Homo sapiens: one gene and its partner. The protein of the gene in region 2 interacts with the protein of the main gene of each other region in a pairwise test. Each region holds a gene or a part of one and is shown on either strand. Other genes may lie near its edges. The genes, in order: THUMPD1 and NAT10.

What was found.
Region 1: the proteins of NAT10 (region 2) and THUMPD1 interact in binary tests that used the Homo sapiens proteins (3 or more experiments, as listed by UniProt).

What each region holds. Positions count from the first base shown.
Region 1 is NC_000016.10:20,737,126-20,747,450, forward strand, and holds the start of THUMPD1 (THUMP domain-containing protein 1), read right to left. Parts: upstream 4,694-10,325; 5' UTR 4,615-4,693; coding exon 4,384-4,614; intron 1,947-4,383; coding exon 1,772-1,946; intron 832-1,771; coding exon 583-831; intron 162-582; coding exon 1-161. UniProt on the Homo sapiens protein: Functions as a tRNA-binding adapter to mediate NAT10-dependent tRNA acetylation modifying cytidine to N4-acetylcytidine (ac4C).
Region 2 is NC_000011.10:34,107,342-34,117,673, reverse strand, and holds part of NAT10 (RNA cytidine acetyltransferase), read right to left. Parts: intron 9,464-10,332; 5' UTR 9,449-9,463; coding exon 9,341-9,448; intron 8,933-9,340; coding exon 8,841-8,932; intron 5,623-8,840; coding exon 5,451-5,622; intron 3,959-5,450; coding exon 3,836-3,958; intron 1,852-3,835; coding exon 1,790-1,851; intron 1-1,789. UniProt on the Homo sapiens protein: RNA cytidine acetyltransferase that catalyzes the formation of N(4)-acetylcytidine (ac4C) modification on mRNAs, 18S rRNA and tRNAs.

The DNA of each region.
Region 1 (10,325 bases), on a different chromosome or scaffold from region 2:
CTTAGGGCTCTTCACCACCTCCTGGAGATTGTATTTTCTAAACAACATGTAATCTTTCACAACACTCAGGCAACAGACAGCTTTGATGATTTCTACTACCACTGTGTACTGTGGATTGGTGAGATCCACTTTATTTTCTGAATTGAGGGTGCACACTATTCCTGTAACAAAAACAGAAAAACACATAGCTGAGGAGGATACCATTACATCTGATAGATACAAAAAATCTTTTGTCTCTGTTTCTTGTTAAAACAAGACATACAGTAATCCACTCTTCTATGTGGACTTCAAATAATCTGAACCCTTACAATAAATAAACACAAATGAAACCCTACAACATTTAATAAGAATTTTTTTCCAAACAAAATTCAATTTCGAGTTAAAAAAGACTTTTATCTAACTACCAGAAAATCTCATATCCGACATATTGAAATCAGTTGATTTAATACTATTTTAAGAACATTTTAATATATTTGTTCTACACTCAAAAATGTAAGCCTTAAATCTTTAAAAAGAAAAAAATCCTTAAAAAACAAGTATTTACCATTGAATGCCTATGGAAAATCACTAAGAGAAACATACCTGCCAATTCTCTGATAACTTCTTCTCTATTCACATGACTGTTATTTCGAGATTTGTACACAATCTGAAATGTCCCTTTGTTTGGAGCTTTAAACCAGGGTTCCAAAAATGTTTCTGCATATTTTTTCATATCTTCTAAAAAAGCCTTGCATGTGCCTGAGATGGGTAACATTCGCAAAATAACTCGAGTCTTCTTTTTCTTGGTTTTGTACATATCCTGGAGAATATGATGCACCAATTTCTCAGGCTCTTAAGAAAAAAAAAAAGTTAAGAAGATAATTTCTCAGACATCTTAAAGATCGAACTCTAAAATGAATTTTCACTGGCAATGACATAAGTTGACAGAAGAAATTCTCATAATGAATTTTAAATGAATCTACCTAGTCATTCTTTCCAAACAGTATTTCTTCAGTGCCTAATACGTACTATAATGTATCTAATATATTTTAACTTTTCATCATTATTACTGCTTGCACTAGAAATGACTGTTTAGGTAGACACCGTTGTTAACATTTTTGTGATGTCCTGAGTTATCCAACCGTAACACCATGCTGTTGTTTTCCTGTAACAACAGAGTACATTAAACAGTACACACTTTTTTACAAAAAAAAAAAAAAAAAATTCTGTGAGTCACTTTAAAAGATGTAATTAATCCATTAGCTAAGTTAGCACACAAGTCTAAATCTCAGACCCAAGAGGAATCCCAGAACCATGCTGGGCACAACATCATGAAAGGGAGGTCCTCAGGCTGCAACTTGCCTACATACAAGTATATTTGGGGCTGCTCCGAAAATTTGTAAATTAGTTGACCACACTGAAAAACAAAAAAACTCCAGATTTCAAACTTCTTTTGAGAAATTCAAATACCTGGCCCTGCATTCCCAAAGAGCAACAACTGGCTGGAGCTGAGTAGCAGCTGCCCCTTATTTACACAGAACTGGCACTCTAGTTCTGCCTTAAGTTATATACGAAGGAAGCAGCAAAGCCAGGTTTCCACTCATAAGCCAATGCTACGTCCACCACCCCATTCTACCTCTCCACAGGCCAACTGCTAATACAGTGTACAGAAGCTGCCATCAAATGATTAACTGAGTCATGCCCAAGAAGCCATTTTGTAAGCAGTATTCCCTGAGACAGGAAGATACCCAGATGTTATGAGATCGATAATCTTAGCAAGTATTTGTCACACCTATCCCAAGTGTCCTGATGAAGACAACGTTATTTGCTCCACTTTCCACTGACTGGAATCTTCTTAACCTCATCTCTGTAGATGCCTTAATGTCACCAACTTCTTTCTTCAAGGCAGCCTCCGCATCATCATCCTCTCCCTCACTTCCAGAGGGCTGCTGATCCTTGTCTGTAAACTGTTTGCATAAAACTAATGAGCAGAAATGACACAACAGCTCACATTTAAACACTATAAGTAATTATTTATGTGAAGTCCCTGGCGGCAGGTGGCTCAGTATTGATTTTTTTTTTTTTTCTAAAGATGGAGTCTCGCTTTGCCTCCCAGGCTGGAGTGCAGTGGTGCGATCTTGACTTGCTGCAACCTCCGCCTCCTGGGTTCAACCAATTTTCCTGCCTCAGCCTCCCAAGTAGCTGTGATTACAGGCGCATGCCACTACACACAGCTAATTTTTGTATTTTTAGTAGAGATGGGGTTTCGCCATGTTGGTCAGGCTGGTCTTAAACTCCTCAGGTGATCCACTCGCCTCAGCCTCCCAAAGTGCTGGGATTACAGGTGTGAGCTACCATGCCCAGCTGACTCAGTATTGATAATAAAGCTTTTTTTACGAAGCTGGGACACCACACCCTTCAAAACGTGGAGCAAGGCCGGAAGTGGTGGCTCATGCCCATAATCCCAGCACTCTGGGAGGCAGAGGCAAGCAGATCACCTGAGGTCAGAAGTTCGAGACCAGCCTAGCCAACATGGTGAAACCTTGTCTCTACTAAAAATACAAAAATTAGCCCGATGTGGTGGCAGACGCCTGTAATCCCAGCTACTCAGGAGGCTGAGGCAGGAGAATCGCTTGAACCCAGAAGGCAGATATTGCAGTGAGCTGAGATTGCACCACTGCACTCCAGCCTGGGTGACAGAGCAAGACTCTGTCTCAAAAAAATTAAAAAAAAAAAAAAAATGTGGAGGAAGAGGGAATTCCCGCAGACTATAGAATGTAAAATTTGAAAATGTTTTCAAAAGCATCCTGACAGTTTGAGGCAGAGAGAAACGTGCTGACCAGATCAATCATTTTAGGGTGGACCTTAACACGTTGACCAGGTATCTGTGTGCCTCACACGACACTGTCCTTTTGGTGAGATTAGACCAAATACCTGTGGAATTAAAAACCCTTACTCTTGTTCTATTAAGGAACAAGGCACAGAAATACATTGTTCAATAATTTTGGCCAAGCATGGTGGCTCATGCCTGTAATCCCAGTACTTTAGGGGGCAGAGGTGGGCGGATCCCTTGAGCCTAGGAATTTGACACCAGCCTGGACAACATGGCCTGAGAACCCGTCTCTACAAAAAATACAAAAAATTAGTCGGGCATGGTGGCACATGCCTGCAGTCCCTGCTACTCGGGGACTGAGGCAGGAGGACTGCTTCAGCCCCGGAGGTGGAAGTTGCAGTGAGCAAGAGCATGCCACTGTACTCCAACCTCCACCTTGGGTGACAGAGCAAGACCGCTTCCAAAAAAAGAATTTGCTTAAAGTACAGGAGTAGACAGGATATGTGCTTGTTGCCCAGCTCTCTGCCCCCTAGTGCCCAACGAAATTGCCAGTCAGGCACAATAATAATTGTATACATTTACAGAAACTTTATTACATACCAGTATGTATTTTATGTACATAAGCAACTCACTAGCCAGTCTTAAAGTATTCTCTTTTTTATCTAGCTCAGCAGCATCAAATAATGTGCCCATGTCCGAGTCCCCAAGCTAGTAGAGGATGAGCCGTGAATTTAAATTCCCTCTGTATTACCCTTCTTCATTTAATCCCTCAGTGTGCGTGTGTGTATTGGTCCAGATTCTAAGCCAGTAATATGATTTCCAAACACTAAGACTTTAGGTGATATTGGTAAAAGTTTTTACGTTCTAAAATGTATTTTAAGTGCAGTAACTAGCATTAGTAGTAAACCTATTATTTCAGAAATATTATTGCTTCAGGTAAACACATTATTACTCCAACTTCACGAGGCTGTCATGAAAAATGTGTTTCTGAAAGAGCTTCAGCACACCGCCTGGCCCTCAATGAGCAATCCTTAAGTGGGAGGTAGGCCGGGCTCAGTGGCTCGCGCCTGTAATCTCAGCACCTTGAGAGGCAGAGACGGGAGGATCGCTTGAGTGTAGGGTTTAGGACTACCCTGGGCCAAACAGTGAGACCCCTTATCTACAATTTACAAAACTTAGCCGAGAGTGGTGGCGCGCACTCATAGTCCCAGCTACTCTGGAGGCTGAGACAGGAGAAGTCGAGGCTTCCCTGAGCTATCATCACGCCACTGCACTCCAGCCTCGGCAACAGAGCGAGACCCTGTCTCACAAAAATAAAAATAAAAGTAATGGGAGCTACCGTGGTTACTGATGGCAAGAAAAGGTGCAAGCACTTCAAGCACAAAACCGATAGCACCGAAGTCTGCGAGCGTCTCAGGACTAGGGACGGAAACGCCGGCGAGGCCACGCCCCTACAGCCGTCACGCCGACGACCCGAGGCGCGCATGCCCATACCAGCAGCCATCCCTCCACCCTTCCCTCCTCCCGCAAGGCCTGGCAGCCGGCCCGCCCGCCCACCCCGGGACCGGTACCTTTTCTGGCCCATACATGTCGTCGCCGTATTCGTTGAGGAGGCTGTAGGCCTCCTCCACGCACTTGCGCTCGTTCATATTGCAGGTGATGAGGATGCCCTGTAGCCCGGGCTCTAGCTGACGGGGCCCGCCAGCGTCGCAGCGCCGAGCGCGCTTGGCCAGCACATACTGAGCCTTGCCTTTGCGCTTCCCGCCGCCAGGCTGAGTAGTCTGCTGGGCAGGGGCCGCCATGGTGTGCGCAAACTGAGAGGAAAGAGAAACGTTTCTCCGCTGCTGTTGGCGTCCTCGTCTATCGCCGGCGCGAACTGGTGACGTCGGATATGAGCGACGGCCTCCCCTAGCCGGCCTCGAAGCCTCATTCCGTGCTGCGCCAGGTCCTAAGGCCGGTCTGCAATCGTGAAAGGGGTGGAGTGATACCCGCCCAAGCCCCGCCTCCTGCCCCGCCTCCCGACTGCAACCTGAATCCAGTAGAGGCAGCATAGCAGCCATTCTGGAAGTGGTGTCGGTGGCTCCTCAAGCCCTTGAAGCTGGCTCCAGCCATATAGCTTCTTCCACCCAACCTTGGTACCTGTTCCTCCAGCCTTCCCTATAATTCTGCCAGCTACTGTGGAGGAAAAGTTAAATATTAAATTTGAACTCAATTGAACGTGGACACAATGGTCAAGTCCCGTAACAGGTTGCATGAGCCCCTTGAGGCATTCATTCATCCAGCACTGTTACAGATAACTCTGTACCTGTACTTGAGTTATTGAAAAACAGACAATCACAGAAACAAGTTGACCTTTATGTGTTCCTTGAGCCCAGTCGAGAAGGGCCCTCGTGACTGGGCCTCATGCCAATCAACGCATTACAAAAAGAGCCAGGGTCGGCCGGGCACGGTGGCTCACGCCTGTAATCCCAGCACTTTGGGAGGCCAAGGCAGGCAGATCACGAGGTCAGGAGATGGAGACCATCCTGACCAACATCTCTACTAAAATGCAAAAAATTAGCCAGGCGTGGTGGCGCGCACCTGTAGTCCCAACTACTCGGGAGGCTGAGGCAGGGGAATCACTCGAACTCGGGAAGCGGCGGTTGCAGTAAGCCGAGATCGTGCCATTGCACTCCAGCCTGGCAACAAAGCGAGGCTCTGTCTCAAAAAAAAAAAAAAAATGAGCCAGGGTCCCAGGCCACACGGAAGCTTCTTGAGACCCCTCCTCCTCTGTGCACGGACAAGTGGCTGACTCTGGAGCCCAGGCTGTTGCTTCCCGGTCTGGTGATGAATCCAACATAGTCTGGTGCGTGTAAATATATATATATATATATATATTTTTTTTTTTTCCCTTCTCCCCTTCCCATTGCAATTTGCTTACTATATCATTTGCTTATTATATCTGCATTGCCATTTACGTGGGATAAAGGTTGTTTACCCCCAAAGGTATTGTATGTTTGTCTATTTTTTTTTTTTTTTTTTGAGATGGAGTCTCGCTCTGTCGCCCAGGCTGGAGTGCAGTGGTGCGATCTGGGCTCACTGCAAGCTCCGCCTCCCAGGTTCACCCCATTCTCCTGCCTCCCTCCCGAGTAGCTGGGACTACAGGCGCCCGCCACCACGCCCGGCTAATATTTTTTATTTTTAGTAGAGACGGGGTTTTACCGTGTCAGTCAGGATGGTCTCAATCTCCTGACCTCGTGATCCACCCGCCTCGGCCTCCCAAAGTGCTGAGATTACAGGCGTGAGCCACCGCGCCTGGCCGTATTTTGTCTTGTTTTTTCCCCTCGCGCATTTCCCACATAGAACAGTTACTCAAAAGGCTTCCAGTAAATTCCATTTCAGCCTCAATTTTCCAGGCTATGTTTCTATTTCACTTAAAACCAAGGATGTTGGCTGGTGTTGTTTCATGCTGCTTTCGTTGCGGCCTTTTATCCATAGTCTTGGCAACTTATCATGTTACTGTCTTTTTAAAAATCATTGAAGATGCCACTTTTGAAGAATGTGTTTAAAAAACAAGTGCTTCTCATACTACTCTTCAGGTACAAACCTCTTAGCAGATTTGAGTTCCTACAAAGCCCTAAAAGATGTAATCTGATATTTTGAAAGGGACACCGAATTCACAGTCAATAAACCCTAGGTTCTAACCCCAGATCTACCACTATGTCCAAAAATTTTATCATCTTATTGTTTGCTTTTACCTGTGTATTCAATACAGCATTTAATTTTCAGAATTTCTTTGGTGGACACTGCACAGCAGAGATTTCTAGAAGTCCTCAGTTGTTTGTGAAGAGCAGTGTCATGACACTGGCATTGGCCTTCCCCCAAATCTCTCTCTCTTCTGCTGGCTGGGTTTCAGTTGCCCACACTCTGCCACCTGTCCTTAGGATATCAAATATTAGCATACAGATAACAAGTTAAAATATATATATTTCAAGTCCCAAGCATATTTGAGTACTATATGGAGGCAAACTTGAAAAACAAAAACTCAGTTTTGTTAAAATATGTGAGGAGGCAGCTTTAGGCTAAATTTAAGTTTGGCCTAAATCAAGCTTGTCCAACCTGTTGGCCCACAGTCAACATGTGGCCCAGGACAGCTTTGAAATTCAACCGGCCCAACACAAATTAATAAACTTTCTTAAAACACTCTGAGGTTTTTCTGCAATTAAAAAAAATTCATCTGCTATTGTTAGCATTAGTATATTTTATGGGTGGCCCAAGAGGATTCTTCTTCCAAGGAAGCCAAAAGATTGGACATCCCTGGCCTACAGGTTTCTCCATACATAGTGAACTATAACCTAATTGGATGTGTAAACAGACTGTAATGGCTGTTGTAACAAGTAGCCAAATCTCAGCCAAGCACAGAAGCCATGCTCAACCACTCACAGGTGGCTGATTGTTCAAACCATGTTTTTTATTTTTATGTTTTTTGAGACGGAGTCTTGCTGTCGCACAGGATGGAGTGCACTGGTGCAGTCTCGGCTCACTGCAACGTCCACTTACTGGGTTCAAGCGATTCTCCTGCCTCAGCCTCCCAAGTAGCTGGGATTACCTGTGCATGCCACCACGGCCAACTAATTTTTGTATTTTTAGTAGATATGGGGTTTCACCATGTTGGCCAGGCTGATCTTGAACTCCTGACCTCAAGAGATCTGCCCACTTCGCCTCCCAAAGTGCTGGGATTACAGGCATGAGCCACTGCGCCCAGCCAAACCACGTTTAAATAAGGCAAATACTGAGTTGTAACCTATTGGGCTGTTTCTGTACCTTACTTCCATTTCCTGCACCTCACTTTTCTTTTTATGTCCATAAATCATCTCTGACCATGTGGCAGCACCAGGATGTCTCTAAACCTATTCCGGTTAGTGGGTCAGGGGCCTGCCTGATTTGAGAATCCTTCCTTGTGCAATTTAATTCTGTTAAATTTAATTTGTCTAAAGTTTTTTAACAGTTTATTGTATTTCATGGTTGCTGACTGTGCAGAGAATATCCAATGAAGTGAGAAAAATATGCAACCCTGTAGCTCTCAGTCTAGACGTTAGTTATCTAAATCACACACTCATCCTGTGGCAGCTGCCGGGGCTGCGTCCACTTACTTCCTCTTCTGAAACAGGCCCTCGTCCAGCTCTAAATAACTCAGCCTTCATTTATTCCTTATTATTCTTCTTTGTTCTTTTTTGCTTATTCTTTAGACTACATCTATTATTTCATGGCTGTGTGAACTTTCACCTCCTTAGGTTACCTCCCAGACATGGACAATGGCCCAGTGTCTATCCTTAGACACCAGGGACTCTGTCGCTTGAAAACCTCTCTTAGAAGGGACCACTTGGGGCCAGGCACGGTGGCTCACGCTTGTAATCCCAGCACTTTGGGAGGCCAAGGAGGGTAGATCACTTGAGGCCAGTTCAAGACCAGACTGGGTAACATGGCAAAACCCCATCTCTACTAAAAATAAAAAAATTAGTTGGGCATGGTGGTGCATGCCTGTAATCCCAGCTATTTGGGAGGCTAGACACGAGAGTTGCTTGAACCTGGGAGGCAGAGGTTGCAGTGAGCTGAAATCGTGCCACTGCACTCCAGCCTGGGCAAAATAGACTCTGTCTCAAAATAAATAAATAAATAAATAAATAAATAAATAGAGACCACTTGGCACCTTGTGGCACCATCTAGAGTAGATTAAGGTGATCTGAGGATGTTACCTTTTGTTTTAATTAACCTATTTGCTTCAGATATTCAGAAGGCCTCACAGCCAAGCAAGGGGGGAATGGTGTGACACATTCTAGATTCCCTTTCTGTTTCTCTTCCTAACCTTCAAAGTTACTGTCCCTGAAGTTCTACTTGTATGTTCAGTACAGAACCCAGGTAGGAGATGCTCTTAGACACTCCTCGTGTTCTGACCTTGCTCCCCATCCACACTTCCTGCCTTAGTCTCTTGTTACCCAGCATCTTCAGGGAATGGATATCCTGGCTGTGAATCCCAGTCTCCTTCTGACTTGATTCCCAATATCTGCTGCCTTCAGAGTAGGTATCAAGTACGATTAAAAGCCCAGGTTCTAAAGCCAAACCAAGTTCAAATTCTGCTTTGGCCATGACCTGGCTGTGAAACTCTGAGTAAGTTACCCAAGCCAAGGTTTAGATTCCCTGTTAGATTTAAAAATAATAATAATGGAAATAATAATACTCACATCATGGGTTATTAGGAAAATCCAGTAAGATCAGTCATGACAAGTGCTTAGCTCTCAGCCACTGTTCAGTCAACATGTGCTTAAAAACAGCTGCTTTCAGACTCAGTCGTGAATCATGGAAGCCTGTTTTTTTCTTTTTGATGTAAGTATCCATCCCTCAGTCTGATCACCTAACCTCATTATTTGTCTATTATTCTCTAATTTAATGGTTCTTTTATATTTTTGGTTTACTAAAAGCTGTTGAATCCTTTTACTTAGGAGACTAAAAGGGGTTTTATTTTATTGTTCTATAGACCTCCTCTGTGGAAAAGGGGAATTTAAAAGTATATATAGCGTAAAGTAAAATAACATAAAATGCGTAAGACTGGCATGCCTTACCTCTGCCAGCTGGTTTCTGCCTCACATTTGATTGAATGACATCCCACCTTTCACTAGCTTTGTAGCCTCACTGGCAGCACTTGTCACATTTGTGCTTTCATTACACCCAGACGCTGTGTGAGAAACTCACCCAACAGCCTGATCACCCAGGCTGGAACCCAATTTTAAACCAATGTGAACTTGAGTCTGCCCCTAGAGGAGTCAAATTTGGCCTGGCCTTTGTACCTACTCAGCCCTGCTGAGTGTCCTATACTGATCCCCATCACCTCTAATTCATTTCATTCCACCAGTGCCTGGGTCCCAGTTTTGACAGATATGTTTCTCTATGGCAAACTTGGCACTTTGAGGGCCTATGTTCTTAAGGGCAAAAGTCATTAAATCTCTTTCCCTCCAATTTTATCTTTCAATTTTATACTCTAAACATACAAGTCTTTCTTCTTAAACTTTTCCTGGTGTTTTGTGGGTACTTCCTTCCCACTCCTTTGAGATTTGGTTGAATAATCTATGTTCCAAAGTAATTGTTTTGAAGCAGGAGATATAAAAAAAAAAACAAGTTTTCTTGGAGGCTGACTCACTGCAAGGCCCAGCGATAGACAGGGCTCTGGAAGGGCTTTGATAACACTATCTGCAGAGCCAGGGCCCTCAAGGGATGGGTTCCAGAGCCTCTCCCTGCCATCCCAGAGCAGGGATGAGAAAAACAAGTTTTTCTTCTCTTTCAGCTTCCGCCTTCCCCCTTATCATTCTCATAATTATTTTGCAAAGTTTTATAAGTTCCTGTTTTTCCCTTCTGTACAGCATGGCAAGGTCACAAGATATGCTTCAGTTGCAAAACCTGTCACTGTTTAACAAACTGCCTTTGTTCTGCTTCTGTAAGCTGCTTACCCACCCTACAGGTTTCACACCATCAAACTGGC
Region 2 (10,332 bases):
ATGCGTTTGACTATAAAATTCAAACATCCTCCCACTGCAAGAAAAGGATTTCATAGGCTTCTGTTGTATTCAGTAGCACACAGCTGCTCCTCCTGATCTGCTCATTCTACTGACTTAGTGCATCACAGATGGTTAAAATGAGAAAGGCCCCCAGGGTTCATCAAGGCTCGGATTTCTACACCTCAGCACTACTGACATTTTGGACCAGATAATTCTTTGGTGTGGAGCTGTCCTGTGCACCACCAGTTGTTCAGCAGCATCCCTGGCCTCTACCCACCGGATGCCCACGGCACCCACCACCACCCTCCCAAAGTCATTACGATCAAAACATTTCCAGACATTGCCAAATGTCCCCAGGGGGCCAAATGGCTCCAGATGAGAACCACTGATTTAGGTCAAAATTTCCTAAGGTGTTTCACAGGGTGCTAACTGGTGTTCCCACACCCCTCAAAAAAATAAATTTTTTTGGTAAAATAAATTTGGGAAACAATCAGTTAAACAGGTCCCTGCTGCTGCAAGACTTTTCAGAGATTACAACAGGCTGGGGCAAATCTTCATAAAGGAAAAAACGGTATAGGTGTTTCCCAGACATATATGGCCAAACCCTCCTCATATGTTCCCTCTTAAAAGACTAGTGTTCTATGATCGGGCACGGTGGCTCACGCCTGTAATCCCAGCACTTTGGGAGGCCAAAGTGAGCAGATCACTTGAGGTCAGGAGTTCGACACCAGCCTGGCCAACACAGTGAAAACCCCACCTCTACTAAAAATACAAAAAATGGCCAGGCACGGTGGCTCATACATGCAATCCTAGCACTTTGGGAGACTGAGTGGGGCAGATCACTTGAGGTCAGGAGTTCAGGACCAGCCTGGCCAACATGGTGAAACCTTGTCTCTACTAAAAATACAAAAATTAGCCAGGCATGGTGGTGGGCTCCTGTAATCCCGGCTACTTGGGAAGCTGAGGCACAAGAATTGCTTGAATGCGGGAGGCAGAGGTTGCAGTGAGCCAAGATCGTGTCTCTGTACTCCAGCCTGGGCAACAGAGCGAGACTCTGTCTCAAAAAAATAATAATAATAATACAAAAAATTAGCCGAGTGTGGTGGCGGGCACCTGTAATCCCAGCTACTCGGGAGGCTGATACAGGAGAATCACTCGACCTGGGAGGCAAAGGTTGCAGTGAGCCAAAATCGCACCACTACACTCCAGCCTGGGCAACACAGCAAGACTCCATCTCAAAAAAATAAATAAATAAAATAAAAATAAATACATACAAATTTAATTTCAGATAACAAACCGTACACCATATTTGAAATTATGGGTGTTCCTTTGCTCAGAAGAAACACTTTGTCGCCTTTTTCTGCCTCTAATTACATCTCACCCCACCTCCCATATTTCTCTTAATCATTTTTACTATGCCAGTACGTCATATTCATAATAAAAAGTTTGGAAAGACTACTGCTCTATGAAATATCTTCTGGGAAGCAGTGATCCAGAAAAATCACTCATTTAAAAGATGAGTAAGCTAAGAACCAGAGAGAGTAACCTGGTTTAACTGAGCTGTCAAGGCCAGCAGCAAGACAAAATTGAGGTTTCCTGGCTCCAACTTTCCACCACGTTTCACTGCTTCCAGTTAGTCTCACAACTGCTGCTGCTGTCAAGAATCTCATCATTTTTGGAATATTGTACTACTTTCCCCAATATAAAAGCAAAGTTTTCAGTTGAGTCCAAGATAAAAATGTCCCTCCCAATGTGGCTGCCCCACAATTGGGGGGAACTATAGAATTACCTTTCATTAAATCTTCCCACCACATCCTGATGGGCCTCAGTTCTGTACCTGGAATGCACATCCTAACAAAGAAAGACAACATCCATTAACAAAGGCATGCAAACAGTGCTGAGGACCAGGGTCCAAATACAAAGCTCTATCCAAGGAGACATGGGCAATCTTGCTGGAAACAAAATCACTCCCACACACACTGCTGTGCCAAATGGTATTTGCTGAAACTGGGATCAGACACTGAATGCAACGTTGCTTATTAAAATCTTTCACTTTTCCACATTTTTCCTAGCATCCTAAGTTATATTCATTTATTTCATAAAATTGGCATGCTGTGTGCCAGATATGCTGTGCATACACTAATGAACAAAGCATGACCTCTGTTCTCATGGCACTTGGAGTATAATGGATGGAGGAAGAAAAATTAGTAGATAAATACAAATTTTGACAAATGCTACATATGAAATATAGACTGCACGGATAGCAAGTGGGGGTCACTTATGTAGGGTAGTGAGGGAGGGCCTCTCTGAGATAAGCTGAGGCCTGAAGGGTAAGTAGGTAGCTATGTCAGAGGGAGAGGAAGAACAAACTGATGTGAGCACAAAGTCATTCATTCACTCTCAACTATCTAAGGAATGCTTACTAAATGCCAGGAACTCTTCTAAGATCTGGAAATGCAACAGCAAAGAAAACTAACTCTCTGTTCCCATCAAATTTATTTACTTATTTATTTATTTTGAGACGGAGTCTTGCTCTGTTGCCCAGGCTGGAGTGCAGTGGCGTGACCTCAGCTCACCGCAACCTCCGCCTCCTGAGTTCAAGCAATTCTCCTGCCTCAGCCTCCCTAGTAGCTGGAATTACAGGTGTGCACCACCACACCTGGTTAATTTTTTTTGTATTTTTGGTAGAGACGAGGTTTCACCATGTTGGCCAGGCTGGTCTCAAACTCCTGACCTCAGGTGATCCGCCCACCTCAGGCTCCCAAAGTGCTAGGATTACAGGCGTGAGCCACTGTGATCGGCCCTCCAGTGAAATTTAGAGACTAGTACAGGAGGACAGACAAATAATAATAATAACTTTAGGTCATTGTCAAGTGCTTTGAAGAAAAATAAAGCCGGTTAAGGAGTGACAGGCGGAGCTGCCTACTGTAAACAGGGTGTGAGGAAAGACCACATGGATGAGGTGATATCTGAGCAGGGGCTTGAATGCAATGAGGAAGCGAGCCAGGCAGAGGTCCAGAGGAAGCACATTCCAGTGGGAACAGCAAGTGCCGAGGCCCTCGCAGGAGTGTGTGCTGGGCATGTCTGAGGACATTTGAGGAGGCCAAAAGGGCTGTAGTGCAAGTGATGAAGGGAGAAGTAATGACAGGAAACAGCCCCTAAGATTTGAGGAAAGTCCATTTCATCAGATAAATGCAGCTCAGGAAACCCTAAGTCCAATCCGACCACCATTACTGAGCTGCTGGACATGGGCATGACTTAAAACTTGCCTCTGAACACTGACTTGGCAACGCTGATAAAGTGAGGAGACCAGCTCTGCATCAGGTGAGACATATCCCTAATTCCTCACCATGTCCTCAGTCAGTGTCTTTTGCTTTGGGAGAACACAATCTCTGCTGGAGTTGAAATTCTTGCCAAACTGGAGTACAACTGGCAAATGTTCCTTCGTCATCCATTAGGATAAGGGCCAGTGAGCAGTCTGCACATGGTCCTTTTTTTGCAATACACAAATTTAGGCACTGGCATTGCTCCTTGTACAATATCATTCCAGAAAATTTAACTACATAAAAGCTGTATCATATCTGAATCTCACTGGTGTAGAATTTGCAAGTGCCTGAAAACAAAGGTGAAATTCAGAGATTCCTAGGCATACTCATGGACCCTGAGATTTAACTGTAGTGACTTTTTCATTAGTTAAAATCAAAGAGCTCTTAGCCCAGAGGCTGTGCTGACTACTCACTGGAGCTGCCCAACAGGAATTCTTTAAAGAAAGCAGAACACAGCAAAAACAGATTTACTTGAACCCTCACAATTAAGTTAAAAAACAGATGCTTACCATAGTCACTGTGTACAATTGCTTGAGTGAGTTCATGGTCCGTAGGAGGATGACCACTAGCCCACCACCTTCCACTGTTTCTACAGTCCTGGCCAGCAAGTTTGGAGTTAAGGCTTCAAAATCCTGGAAGAAGGGGGCGTTAGAAAGGGCTGGTCATGCAAATAGCAACCCAAAGGACTTTTTTTTTTTTTTTTTTTTTTTTGAGATGGAGTCTTGCTCTGTCGCCCAGGCTGGAGTGCAGTGGCGCAATCTTGGCTCACCACCCACCTGAGCCTCCCAAAGTGCTGGGATTACAGGCATGAGCCACCGCGCCTGGCCCAACCCAAGGGACTCTTAACCAAAAGCCAGGTGATAAGGCAAAAAGAAGACTTCAGAGCACAAAGCCAAGACCATACCTGTTCCCACCTTGACTTCCCAGGATACACACACAGGGGTACCACAGAAGAGGGCCAAACCCTCGAATATACGAATACCTGGTTTTATATGCCAAAAACGGGTCTCTTATTAGAGACGTTGTTAGTTTTATATGTCAAAAATGTCTCTGATAAAATCCTATTTGGAAACAAATTTTCCAACCTTCACTGATTCATACTTGAATTTCAGAAACATCTTACATTTTCTGACATTTATAGCTCAAACCTGTTTGACAAAACTATACTACATGGGGGAGCTACTGCTCACAGGAGTCATTATTCAGGCAATTGATCATGGCAGCAAGTAGAAGACCACTCCCTACCAATCAGTGATAACCCAGGGCATTTCCCTGAGTAAAGGTGAAAATGAGGCATAATGCCCTCTTTCTTGGCCTCCAAGGTGAGATGCAAGCCAGCAGTATAGGAGACAACCCATATTTTGCAAGGTATGTAACTTGACATAATAATGGGCACAGTTGTAAGTGTATATGATAAACACACAAAAATGTGAGGATTTGTGCTTAATTTTGTCTTGTCTTTTTTGGGAGAATGGGGAAGGGAGGTGGCACAGGAATCAAAGAAACAAAGAATAAAACAAAGACCACCAGTGCTTACACACACATGCACACACACACACACAAAGTGAAACTTAGTCTATTAACTTGCCAGGCAAGAGAATACACACCAGTGCAGAAATTCACCAAGTAGTCTCTGAGAGGTAAAGTGAGGGGTTTTTAAGGGCTAGAAAAGGGGAGAGGGGCCTTCATGGTGGGTATGCCACTCAGGCACTCTGGACAGGACATTTAAGTGCATTGGTCTATATCCGGTTGGAAAACAAGTCCCATTGCTCACTGGACAAAAAAAGTCTTTGGTGAATGCCAATAAGGACCTAGGGTCCTAGAGGCACTCAAAGTCTCTGGCATTTGCTTTATCAGCTTTAGCTAGTTAGAACCCGTTATAATAACTCATCACTTCAGTTCTGGTGTCTCTAGACAAGTGCTGATTTAAAATTCTCTTTTTATATGGGGTAGGTGACCGAGTGTACTTTGGAAAGTGGCCAGGACTTCCACTAATAATGCTTGGGCATAGGGAACATGGGACTCTCCTCTCCTTACTGTACATCTGTTCCCAGTGGAAAGCCAGGCAGCCCAAGCAACCCTCAAGACTCTGACTTCAATCACAGGTTAGAGGAAGCCACCCACCTGCAGCACACACATGCCGAAGGTATTGCCCAGGATCTTGTGGGTCTCGTTGTAGTAGCAGTAGCGAATGTTTGTGGCTGCTATGAAGAGTTCAAAGGGGTCGTCCTGCTTTATGTTCAGTGTTCCATTCTTTATTTTCTTCTGCAGCTGTCGCATTCTTTTCTTCCGGTGACTGCAATCACACACCCCCAATCCCATGAGAGCCAGTTAACCAGAGCAGCTAAAGAGCTGGAACCAGGGGAAAGGCTCAGTGATCACCCACTTAGACTTTCAGAGCTAGTAGGGAACTTGAAAGTGTGAGGCCCACTTCAGGTGGAGGGCAGTGGAGAGGCATGAGAGGCATTAGAGTGCTTAAGGGCTTGGAGTAAGTGATAAGTCTATGTGTGAACTCTGCTATTTTGCCCTGTGACCTTGAGCAAATACTTTGCTTTAAAAGATGGGTAATAGGGTAGCTAACCCTCACATTTGGCCAAAGCCAGAGCTTGAAACCAAACCTGAGTGGCCTCATTATCTCAGTCATAAGCCAATGCTTCAACTACACTGTGCTGTTCCCCAGAGATCCTAGGAAAGACAAGGTGATGGCACGTTACTTTATTCATCCTTCCTAGAGGACTTCCTCCCCGAGAATGTGGGATTATGTCTTCAAGGGCAGGTCTTACATAAGACAATAATGATACAGGACACAGGGATCAGAATGGAATCTGGACATCTCTAAGGAATTCCTGAATTTTTTTGGTCTTAAAAACCCTGCATATCCAGTTGCTACTTACCTTTCCTTTACCAAAAGAGAGAATTAGAATGTTCTAGAATGGAGGATTACAGCTGATCAAAATTTTACCATAGTTCTCTAACTTAATAGCTAGAACAAAGGCCTTTCCTCCTGTGGGCCTCCACTTCCTCATCTATGAACCAAGGCAGTGGGTGAGTTTGTCTCCACTGTCCCTTCTGGCTCAGGCCTTAAGCCCGTGACTTACAAACAGGCATTAGCTTGAACACAATGCTCTGCCAGACTAAGACAGGGGTGGGGCAGAAGAGCTATAAGAGGTACAAAAGTAGATTTTTAGAAGTGAAGCCAGGTGGTTTAAATTCAAAAGGCAAATCTGCCCAGAAGACTTTGAACTGCCTAATTCCACACCCATCTCATATTTGCCAAATGAAAAATAGTGAAAACCAGAAGCCCTAAAAACTTAAAATTCTGGGATAGACAACAGGCCTTATTCTCAATCTGTATTAAAAATGCCTACCTCTCTAAATATGAGAGTATATACAACAGAATACCAATTATGGTTCAAAACTACATCCCTGTAAGATACACCTAGATGCTGACAATGCCTAGACAGTGAGATGTTTTTTATTTTCATCTTTGGGTTTTCTGCACTTTTCACATTTCATCAGTAAGGCTCTTATGATTGTCTGGTTTCCTTTAGGCAGAATCCCTTCACTTTAAGACCACAGGACAGGGGCAAGTTTAGCCTCTGGTACTAATTTAAATTAAAATAATTTTAGAGCCTGTTAACAACACATCCAACTCAATGTATACTGAGTACCTATGATAAACATGCTAAATCAGTTAAAAGTATGAAAATACAAAGATAAATAGAAGAGGGCTCCTAACTAAATAAGCTTATCACCTGAAAGTAAAAAAAAAAAAAAAAAAAAAAAAAGGGAAAGAAAAAAAAATGAACGTAAGTCACAGTATGTAAGTGACTTTACCCTAAAGCAAAAGCATCCATTGGCAAACATTATAGGAGAAGGACAAGTGCAGAGGAAGGTAGAGGAACCACCAGGTATGACTGGGGGGCTCAGGAAAAGTTTCACGGAGGAGGCAGGCCCTGAGAAACAGGATTTCAATAGGTGATACCGGGGAGGTGGAAGTGGCATTCCAAGCAGAGGAGACAGCATGAGCAAAGAAAAGGAGGGAGGTTAGTCACAGCATAAAGCAACCAGAGCTGGAGACAGGCTTTCAGAGTCAGATCGGAGATGAGCACATTTGGAAATTAGAAGAGGCTCAAGGACAGAATCGCACAAGCCAGCTAGGTTTAGAGTAAGGAGACGAGATCCAGAGAAAGAGAAGAGCTCCGGAAGGTGGTCTGAGTAAAGACACTGAAGCCAAAAAAGGAGACTATTTCTTAGGTGATGCCATGGTGGTTATCTGCCAAGGAACAGCACTACCCACCCCATCCAAACTTCTCCAAACACAAAGTTGTAGGTAGAACTTCCAACTTTGTATTATGCTATGACCAACCCCACCCTCCTCTGGCCAGGTGTGGGCATTTTTCCACCAGAATTTTGGGAAAAAGTCTGATTTCCACATGGCTGGGCCTGAAACAAGGAAAACGCAAGTGTTGTTTCTGCTAGGGGGACAACAGAAAACAGAAAGCTGGTCTGCAGTGAGAAAGTTGGTCTGCATAGAGCAGATACACTGAGATGACAAACTGAGCTGGGAGCATTAGTACTGTGACTCTAGATCACCCGTGAGCAGAGCTGAAATCTTATCCCCTTGGATTCCAGGAAATATCCCATATACCTCAATGAAATCCCTTTGTGCCAAATTGTATTTGTGTTGAAAGTATGTTATCTATGACTAAAAGTCTTGACTACCACAGCTTCAAATAGCCAACTGTCAAATACAGCAGTGAACTGGTAGAAGAAGAGGCAGAGCTCTGAAAAGGAGGAGAAAGAGAGAGAAAAGTTGACGCATTAGGCATCAAGCTGCTGGGGATGTCTAACTGCACAATTTGATCACAATTATAGAAGCAGAAACCAGACTGCAAAAGTGGCTACTAAGTGCAAAAGATTTCTGTTTTAAGGTATATGGCAATAAAAATCGGGGGAAATGCTAACCTGAGAGAGAAATCTGGGTATGTAAGTAATCAGCTTTTGATAATAGAAAAATCTGAGCATGTTTACAGGAAGGAGAAAGTTTCCAAAGGGTATTGGGTGGCCAGCAGAGGAAAGACAATACAGGTCCTGAAAGAGGTGAGGGAGGAGACACAGGGTACATAAAGGGGTTTTCCTTGGACATGGGATGAGGCATATACCCCCTCCATGAAAGAAGGGGAGAAAAAGAGAGAGAGTGAAAAGTGGAATAAATTTGAGGTAGGAAAGACAGTTTGAAGGAACTTGCAATGAGATGGGCTTAATCAGCCTAGAAAAGCAGGAAGGAAAACCATATGCAGAAGGCAAGGCATTGGATTGGTGACTTAAAAAGCATGAAAATGATTTGAAACTTATTTTCAGGAATGAAGAAAGGATATCAGCTCCATTTGTCCTCAGAGATAGCACCTCCACTAAAGACCCTTAAAAAATATGTGAAGGAATCATTTCCTGGCATTTAACTAATGAGCAGGAATTGTAAGTTGGATAAAACACATGAAGAGCCCAGCTTACCTGCTAAACCCCAGCTCTTTCTTATAACACCACAGCACTGAAGGCCGAGCCTTCACAGTTGCTTTGGATAACATGTGATGAAGTATTACCACCTGCCAAACAAAAAAGTCACAGAATTTCAGGCACAAAAGAGACTTTAGAGACCGCCAGGCTTAAGACCTCATTTGACGGATGTGGAAACTAAACTGAGGGCCAGGGAAGGGAAGTGCCCAAGGTTCTAAGGCGAGCAATGACCAGGTTTGGACTAGAAGCCAGGTCACATACAGTTCACTTTGTGGTCAACCCACCACCCCAGGCTTCAAAAGGTATTAGCTTGTCTGCGAATCAATCTAAATACAGAGAATTCACCACTTCCAGGAAATAAAGAAAGGTTCCCACTAGGCATCTTACCAGCCAAAGAGATCTTAATGCCATTATGTCCTGAAACAGCAGAGTGCTTAAACATGCTGATTCTTTGGACAAGATAAAAAGTAATTCAGGAAGCATTTACCAGGCCATACCTGATCTTTTCCTCGATCCCCAACTACAACAAAGAGAGATCTTTGCCGCTCAGCTACTCCATTCTCAATGAGAATCCGGATTCGGTTATCCACCTTTTTCCGATGCATGGTGAAAAATTATTACTAAAAGAGAAAGAAATACAACTGGCCATGCGCACTAGATTGTCTAAGGAACATTAGCTGGCTGCCTTTTGTGGGGCCTGGGACTGTGCTAGGCATATCTATAAGTATTGTCTTACTTAACCCTCTACGAGCTCCACAGGAAGACATCAGCCTCTAGTTTTAAACTCAGGAAACCTTAGGCTTGGGAGGTGAGAAAACCTTCCCTCAGCCTGGAAAGCCTGTAATTCACCTCTATTAAATATTTTTTAAAAGCCAGAAACTTGTATATTCAAAAAAGTAGAAGAATGACTAAAATACATAAGGAGATATCCAAATATCCAAAGCATTGTTTGTTTTTGAGACGGAGTCTCACTCTGTCGCCAGGCTGGAGTGCAATGGCATGATCTCGGCTCACTGCAACCTCTGCTTCCTGGGTTCAAGCAATCCTCCTGCCTCAACCTCCCAGGTAGCTGGGACTACAGGCGCATATGTTGGCCAGGATGGTCTCGATCTCTTGACCTCGCAATCTGCCCACCTCAGCCTCCCAAAGGGCTGGGATTACAGGTGTGAGCCACCATGCTGGGCCAAGCATTTTTAACAACTAAGGATATGGATATAGATGCTTATGACAAGATCATGACAGAATAAAGTATGATAACATTTCTTATGCATACACATAACAGAGGGAAAAATAAAAAAGACTGGAAGGAAATACCAAAGTATAAAGTAGCTACTTCTGGATGGTGGGACTTTTATTTTGTTCTTTTGTTTTTGTGGAATCTTAAAAAATTCACGTGTTACTAATAAAGTCAGGGAAATCAATAACCATCAATGAATAATTCCATGATGTAATGTGTCCAACTGTTTCCTCATTTTAGGGAAAACGATAT